2 linked regions of the Homo sapiens genome follow. The protein of the gene in region 1 purifies or fractionates together with the protein of each later gene. This does not show direct contact. Each region holds a gene or a part of one and is shown in the gene's direction. Other genes may lie near its edges.

Evidence for each region.
Region 2: the proteins of PRSS33 (region 1) and SP3 purify together in Homo sapiens (affinity purification with mass spectrometry; one large-scale study listed by BioGRID and IntAct). This does not show direct contact.

What each region holds. Positions count from the first base shown.
Region 1 is NC_000016.10:2,784,739-2,789,104, reverse strand, and holds the start of PRSS33 (serine protease 33 precursor), read left to right. Parts: upstream 1-1,544; 5' UTR 1,545-1,572; exon of another isoform or gene 1,573-1,630; intron 1,631-2,500; 5' UTR 2,501-2,557; coding exon 2,558-2,603; intron 2,604-2,983; coding exon 2,984-3,016; intron 3,017-3,143; coding exon 3,144-3,306; intron 3,307-3,458; coding exon 3,459-3,730; intron 3,731-3,933; coding exon 3,934-4,103; intron 4,104-4,302; coding exon 4,303-4,366. UniProt on the Homo sapiens protein: Serine protease that has amidolytic activity, cleaving its substrates before Arg residues.
Region 2 is NC_000002.12:173,903,320-173,906,677, reverse strand, and holds part of SP3 (transcription factor Sp3), read left to right. Parts: 3' UTR 1-3,358. UniProt on the Homo sapiens protein: Transcriptional factor that can act as an activator or repressor depending on isoform and/or post-translational modifications. Binds to GT and GC boxes promoter elements. Competes with SP1 for the GC-box promoters.

The sequences.
Region 1 (4,366 bases):
GGCAGCCCAAGCGGACTCCTACAGGGACACAGACCCAGACCCTGATGCTGGAGGGGAGACAAGAGGATGTAAATCAAACCTCCTCAAGTCCCTGTCAAAGGACAACTATGGGCTGGCCTCGGTGGCACATGCCTATAACCCCAGCACTTTGGGAGACTACAGCAAGAGGATCTCTTGAGCCCAGGAGTTCGAGAACAAGTTGGGCATCATTGCAAGACCCCATCTCTGGAAAAAAAAATTGCTAGGTGCTGTGGCATGCACCTGTGGTCCCAACTACTTGGGAAGCTGAGGTGGCAGGATCACTTGAGCCCAGAGGTCAAGGACGCAGGGAGTTGTGATTGTACCACTGCACTCCAGCCTGGGTGACAGAGCAAGACCCTGTCTCTCTCTCCCTTTTTATTTTTTTTTGAGACAGAATCTCACTGCGTCGCCCAGGCTGGAGTGCAGTGGCATAATCTCGGCTCACTGCAACTTCCACCTCCCGGGTTCAAGCAATTCCTGTGCCTCAGCCTCCCGAGTAGCTGAGATTGCAGGCGCCCACCATCAGGCCTGGCTAATTTTTGTATTTTTAGTAGAGACGAGGTTTCACCATGTTGGCCAGGCTCGTCTCAAACCCCTGACCTCAAATGAGCCACCCATCTCGGCTTCCCAAAATGCAGGGATTACAGGCATGAGCCACCATGCTTGGCCAAGACCCTGTCTCTTTAAAAAAAAAAAGAAAGAAAAACAAAAAAAAAAAAAAGGAAAAAAGTACAACTATGGCAGGGCTGCAAAGGAGGCAGGAGGAGGTGGCAGAGCAGAAGGCTGAGGGATAAGAGGAGTTCACTATGCAGAGAGGGACTTGAGAGACTTCTAGGCAGCGAACACTGTGTATGAGCCCAAGAGGGAACTACAGGGCCCTGGACCATCCGGGCCCCGGTCCTCCACGGGCCTCGAGAGAAGGGGAGTTCCTGTCCCCTGACCCCAGCATCTTGCTCTGTCTCGGCCACCCCAAACCAAAGACTGCACTGGTCCCCAAGGTCAAGTCTCCCCCTGCCTCTGGTCAAGTAAGGAGTGCCACCAACTTTGAACCAGTCCCTTTCCACCTCCAGCTGCTCCAGACCCCGGATCTGGAAGGGGGCTGGCCATGCTGGGGTCTCTGGGTGGAGCTGTCTGGCCAGGACTTCCGTCTGAGATGGGATTTCTGGACAGAACAATGGAGCGCAGAAGCTCCAGCAACGTGTGCTCTGCAGGGAGCCCAGGTCAGGTTTGGAGAGGAGTTGCCCCGGATCCTGCAGAGCTTCCCCACCTGACTGCCACCCCTCCCAGCACCTACCCGCACCACTGCTCTCCGCCAGCCCCCACTTCTAGTACCTTGGCGCAAGGCAGGCTTCCTTTGAGAAACCCATTGACCCTTTCCTGCCACCTCTGAAGCTCTGCTCAAAGCATCTTTGTTTGAGGCTGGTCCGGTAAAGCCACAGCCCCGCCCCGGCCCTGTTCATTACTCCTTGGCTGAGCCTCGCGCTCTCCTGGCACTTTAAGCCCCCAGGCCCTCCCTCAACCCCAGTCAGCAGAAGGCGCCAGGCTGTGAGGGTGAGAGCAAGCCAGGGGCTGTGGGGGCTGCAGGGGCAGCCAGTGGGTGAGGATGAGGGTGAGGACGAGGAGGGGTGAAGGATGGGGGAGGGGGTGAGGATGAGGGAAGTGGTGAAGATGAGGGAGGGGAGTGAGGAGGAAGGGGGTGAGGATAGAGGAGGGGGTGAGGATGAGGGAGGGGGTGACGATGGGGGGGTGAAGGATGGAGGAGGGGTGATGAGAGAGGAGTGAGGATGAGGGAGGGGGTGAAGGATGAGGGAGGGGGTGAGGATGAGACAGGGGTGAGGATGAGGGAGGGGGTGAGGATGAGGGAGGGGAGTGAGGAGGAGGGGGCTGAGGATGGAGGAGGGGGTGAGGATAGAGGAGGGGTGAGGATGAGGGAGGGGTGAGGATGAGAGAGGGGTGAGGATGAGAGGTGAGGATGAGGGAGGGGGTGAGGATGAGGGAGGGGAGTGAGGAGGAGCAGGGGTGACGATGGAGGACGGGGTGAGGATAGAGGAGGAGGTGAGGATGAGGGAGGGGGTGAGGATGAGAGAGGGATGAGGATGAGGGAAGGGGTGAGGATAAGGGAGGGGAGTGAGGAGGAGGGGGGTGAGGATGGAGGAGGGAGTGAGGATGAGGGAGGGGGTGAGGATGAGGGAGGGGGTGAGGATGGGGGAGGGGGATGAGGGAGGGAGTGAGGATGACCGAGGGGGGTTAGGCTCCAGGGCTTCTGTCGAGACCAAGGATGCCCAAATATCTGGGTGGTGGGTGCTGCATACCTGGGCCCTGGGCAGAACGAAGGGTATACAGCCTGGGCCACCAGGATAAGTCCAGAACCCACCAGGAGCTGAGGACAGACAGAAGGACCACGGAGGGGGTGACGGGCTGGTGTGAGGATTGGTGCCCCTGGGCCAGGACTCTCCTCTCTTCTCCCTGCTGGCTCCAGACCAGAGTCCAAGCCCTAGGCAGTGCCACCCTTACCCAGCCCAGCCTTGAAGACAGAATGAGAGGGGTTTCCTGTCTCCAGGTCCTGCTCCTTCTGGTGCTGGGTGAGTGGGGACAGGGACTGGGGGTGAGGGCCGCAGACACCTTGGCTCCCAGTTCTCCCATCTCACTGCTCCCTGGGCCGGGCTCCCTGGAGCACTCTTGGGCTTTCTAATCTTGATTCCAAGGGCTCAATCCTCTCTGCCACTGACCTTGACCTCACCACACCTCGATGTGCTTGTCGGTGTCATGCTCATACGCCCTTGCCCCCTGCACCTTCACAGTGCTCTGGGGAGGGTTAAATAAGATAACAGACGGCACGAAAGCCTGGCGCAATGTCAGGGCAACATTGTTTCACCCTCCTTCCTCATCTCTGGCCTCCCCTCCAACTCCGTTATTTGACACCAAATCTATAATCTGGTCCCTTCCCTGCTTCCTCCTCCAGGAGCTGCTGGGACTCAGGGAAGGAAGTCTGCAGGTGAGGAAGCCTCGGAGTCCACCCGAGTCAGCCCCTCCTGGACCTCGGCCCCGTGTCTCCCCACCAACACCTGCCTCCCAGGCCCCAGGTCCTCAGCCAACCCTCACCGCCCCTGGTCCTTTTCTAGCCTGCGGGCAGCCCCGCATGTCCAGTCGGATCGTTGGGGGCCGGGATGGCCGGGACGGAGAGTGGCCGTGGCAGGCGAGCATCCAGCATCGTGGGGCACACGTGTGCGGGGGGTCGCTCATCGCCCCCCAGTGGGTGCTGACAGCGGCGCACTGCTTCCCCAGGTCAGCGCTCACCGAGGGCCCAGGCGGGGTGTGCAAGGAAGGCAAGGCCCGCAGAGGACCGGGCGTGGCCTGGCAGAGGCGTTGGGGTCGAGGCGGGCTGGAGGGGGTCGAGGACCCGGTGCTGGAAGTAGTCCCCCGCTCCTGTCCTGCAGGAGGGCACTGCCAGCTGAGTACCGCGTGCGCCTGGGGGCGCTGCGTCTGGGCTCCACCTCGCCCCGCACGCTCTCGGTGCCCGTGCGACGGGTGCTGCTGCCCCCGGACTACTCCGAGGACGGGGCCCGCGGCGACCTGGCACTGCTGCAGCTGCGTCGCCCGGTGCCCCTGAGCGCTCGCGTCCAACCCGTCTGCCTGCCCGTGCCCGGCGCCCGCCCGCCGCCCGGCACACCATGCCGGGTCACCGGCTGGGGCAGCCTCCGCCCAGGAGGTAAGGCAGGAGGGCGGGGCTCCGAGGCATCCGGGAGCCCCCACGTCCTCCTCCATCTGACTGGAAATCCCAGCCCCTCACTGCCCCAATCCAGGACCCAGCGCGGCTTCTAGGGAACAAAACCTCCTCTCACTCAGAGCTCAGCTTCTCCCACTGGCCCCCGCTCCACGCCTTCCTCTCAGAGGTCCCTCCTCTTCCCCCAGTGCCCCTCCCAGAGTGGCGACCGCTACAAGGAGTAAGGGTGCCGCTGCTGGACTCGCGCACCTGCGACGGCCTCTACCACGTGGGCGCGGACGTGCCCCAGGCTGAGCGCATTGTGCTGCCTGGGAGTCTGTGTGCCGGCTACCCCCAGGGCCACAAGGACGCCTGCCAGGTGTGCACCCAGCCTCCCCAGCCTCCGGAGTCCCCTCCCTGTGCCCAGCACCCTCCCTCCCTGAACTCCAGGACCCAGGACATCCCAACTCAGGCTCAGGATCCTGGCCTCCAACCTAGAGGCACCACGCCAGGGGTCTGGAACCCTGAGAACTGAAGTCCTGGGAGGGCTGGGACTTAGGCTCCTCTTTCTCCTGCAGGGTGATTCTGGGGGACCTCTGACCTGCCTGCAGTCTGGGAGCTGGGTCCTGGTGGGCGTGGTGA
Region 2 (3,358 bases), on another chromosome or scaffold:
TTGTTTTATGAAAAATTTGTATTGTGTTCAATATTGTTTGAAATTTGGGGTTGTTGCATAAATGATTATGGAATAACATTTGGTTTTAAAATAATATAAACTGACATGTTATGCTACCTGTTACACAATTTGGTTTTCAGTTTTAATTATATGAAGCTGGTAACAATCGTTTTTGTTGTAAAAGAATTATTTTTCACTAAACAGTATGTTTAAAACTGACTGCCATGAATGAGTACTAAGTCTTTTGTTGTCTGACAATAAGCACAAAACAAATTAATTGATATCTTTGGTACAAATTTGATATTTTTGTGAAATCACCTCATAATTTTATTTAGTGTTGAAGAAACAACATTGGCCCCTTGCCTTGTTCAGACAGATTTGCGTATAATGTAAATATATATATTAGTGGCAGAAACAAAGTACTGTAGAAACCTAGAAGAGGGAGAATTCTGCATGAAGTCTGGGAAACTCAGCAGAAATGGCGTTTGCAAAGGTACAGTGTGGTATGTTGGGTGATGGGGGACTTTGTGAGGGACAGAGTGGAAAAATTTTTAAGAGGGGCTGCCAAATTGCAAAAGAGAAGAATTTTTTTTGTCAGTGATTCCTAGTCTTTTTGGAATCCTACACCTTCTCCCCAGAAAAATTCATTCTAGTCCAGGGTTTATTGTTTGTTTTTTCCCTATATTTGACAGGGTCTGTCTCTGTCACACAGTGCAGTGGTGCAATCATGGCTTACTGCAGACTCCACTTACTGGTCTCAAGCAATCCTCCCCACTTCGGCCTCTTAAGTAGCTTGGACCACAGGTGCACACCACCATGCTCAGTTAATTTTAATTTGTTTTGTAGAGATGGGGTCTCACTATATTGCCTAGGCTGGTCTTGAATTCCTGGGCTCAAGTGATCCTTCCACCTCTGCCTCCCAAAGTGTTGGGATTATAGGCGTGAGCCACCACGCTTGGCCAAATCTGGAGTCTAAAGGGTATACAAGGTTTTTTTTTTTCCCATGTTGGCTTTTATTTGATGTTATAAAGTCTTCATGATATGAATATATTTTTTAAAAAGGTGTCATGTATATTGTCATGTAACATGATTCATGCCACTTCATTGTATTAAATACGTTTAAGATACAGTTTTTGATGTTAAGAATGATATCCTGAGAAGGCCTATCTCCTTCAGTCCTTTTCCCCATTTTTCACCTTTTAACTCTTGCTTCTGAATCTATGCTAAGCTACTTACTAGATGTGTGATATTGGTAGTTTTCTTACCTTAAAACCTCATTTTCATCATCCATGAAGAGGCTAACAATAGTACTCCCTGTTGATAGGATTGTTGTATTAAAATATAAGCATTCAGCATAGTGCCTGACTTAACGGTAGAGATTCAAATGGTAACCTCCTTCCAATGCCTTCCTCCCCCCTTAACTCTGGAGATTCCATTTTTCTGTAGTGAAGTGTTTTAGAATTTTCATTGTTTGACTATGGTTCATACATTGATTTTTCCAAAATGAGAAGAAGTCTTATTTCTAATGCAAAAATGTGAAAAGAACAGTTGGAACCTAAAGTGATAGTGGATGAAGTGTCTGAAGTGACTGCCCTATCAGAAAAGGATGGAATAAGAAGAAAAGACTGAAGCACCTAAATGTGTATTTTCTTGAGGAAATTACACCCCTGTGTAAGAGTCTATCCTATTTGAACATTTCTAAAAACCAGCCGAAGAATCTTCAGGTTCATTGCGACTGAAAGATAAAGTCTAGCACTGAAGTGGTTTTTAAGATTAGGAAAGGCCATCAGAGAAATGCAGTTATTTCTCCCCTCCATCCTTCCCCCACAAAAAAAAGTCTAAGCCTCCGATTAATCGACAACAACGAAATACAGGAAGTATTGGCTTAGTGACCTTTTAGGATATCTGTCCGACTTACATCCCTTCTCTGAGCATTACTTTCTGCCACCTTCCGTGAGGAGCTGTTCAGAAATCAGACAAGGAGTGGACATCTGGTCAAAGTTGAGCCAATTAGATGATTTCTCCTGAGAATTTGGAATTGGAAAACTGATGTCTTGGGAGGTCACATCTGGAACATACATGGGAGGCAGAGAAAGCAAAGATGACATTCAACCCCAGAAGAAAAAGAAAATGGCTTTCTTGATTCCTGATAACTTGGCAGTGTTTGTTCCAGTGTCTTGCATTTCACTATCTGCATTTCATCCTCCTGGGGTTCCACAAGATAGCCTTAAAACCTTACAGAGAGACTCCCCAACTTAGTTTTTTCTTAAGTCAGAAGGCTGTTACTTGCTACCAAATAATGCCAACTAAGACAACTGAGGTACAGTATATTCTCTCGTAAAACACCATAGAGTTGATGACTTGATCCTATAGAAAAGGGTCCCCAACCCCTGGGCCACAGACCGGTACTGGTCCCTGGTCTGTGAGGAACCACCTGGGCCACAGACTGGTCCTGGTCCCTGGTCTGTGAGGAACCAGGCCATACAGCAGGAGGTAAGCGAGCATTCCTGCCTGAGCTCTGCCTCCTGTCAGATGAGCCACAACATTAGATTCTCATAGGAGTGCGAACCCCGTTGTGAACCCCGCATGCGAGGGATCTAGGTAGTGCCCTCCTTAAGAGAATCTAATGTCTGATGATCTGAGGTAGAGCAGTTTCATCCTACAACCATCCCCACCCCCCGACCCCCATCCATGAAAAAATTGTCTTCCTCAAAACTAGTCCCTGGTGCCAAAAAGTTTGGGGACCGCCGTCCTAGGAAATACCAACAAAAAGTCACGTTTATTGCCTGCCAAGTGAGTCAGGTTTAGACAAGGCAGAACTTAGTATATAGCTTGGATGAATCAGAAAGGGTGGGCCTTGAAAGACTGGTAGAATGTGTCCAAGAAAACTGATTAAAAGCCTTAGAAGTCCCTCTACAGTTTCAGGACGCCCTCTTAACAGATGGCTGTATCTTTATCTGTGGTTGGTCTTGTGGAATACTGACTTTCTGCCAGCATTAGCCTGTGTTTCTATGTCACACCAAGTCACGTATATTTTCATTGTGTGTTAGGACTCAGAATAGGTTTGGGTCTTTCTTTTAATTATGTATACCCAATTACTTAGTCCTCCTCACACCCTGATCCTTTAAAAATTCTTAAGTTGTGTTAATTGCATTTTTCTCAATTCTACTCCTAGTAACTCTGTGTGTTTTTTTCCATCTTTATTCATTTAGTAAAGTTGAAACCTTTCATAGCATAATATAGTGATTAAGTGCATAGGTTTGGGACTTAGACACACATGGGCTTGCTTGTCTCCCAGTTCTGCCGCTTACCACCTATGTGACCTTTCACTCTTTACCTTTCCACTCTTAGCCTGTTC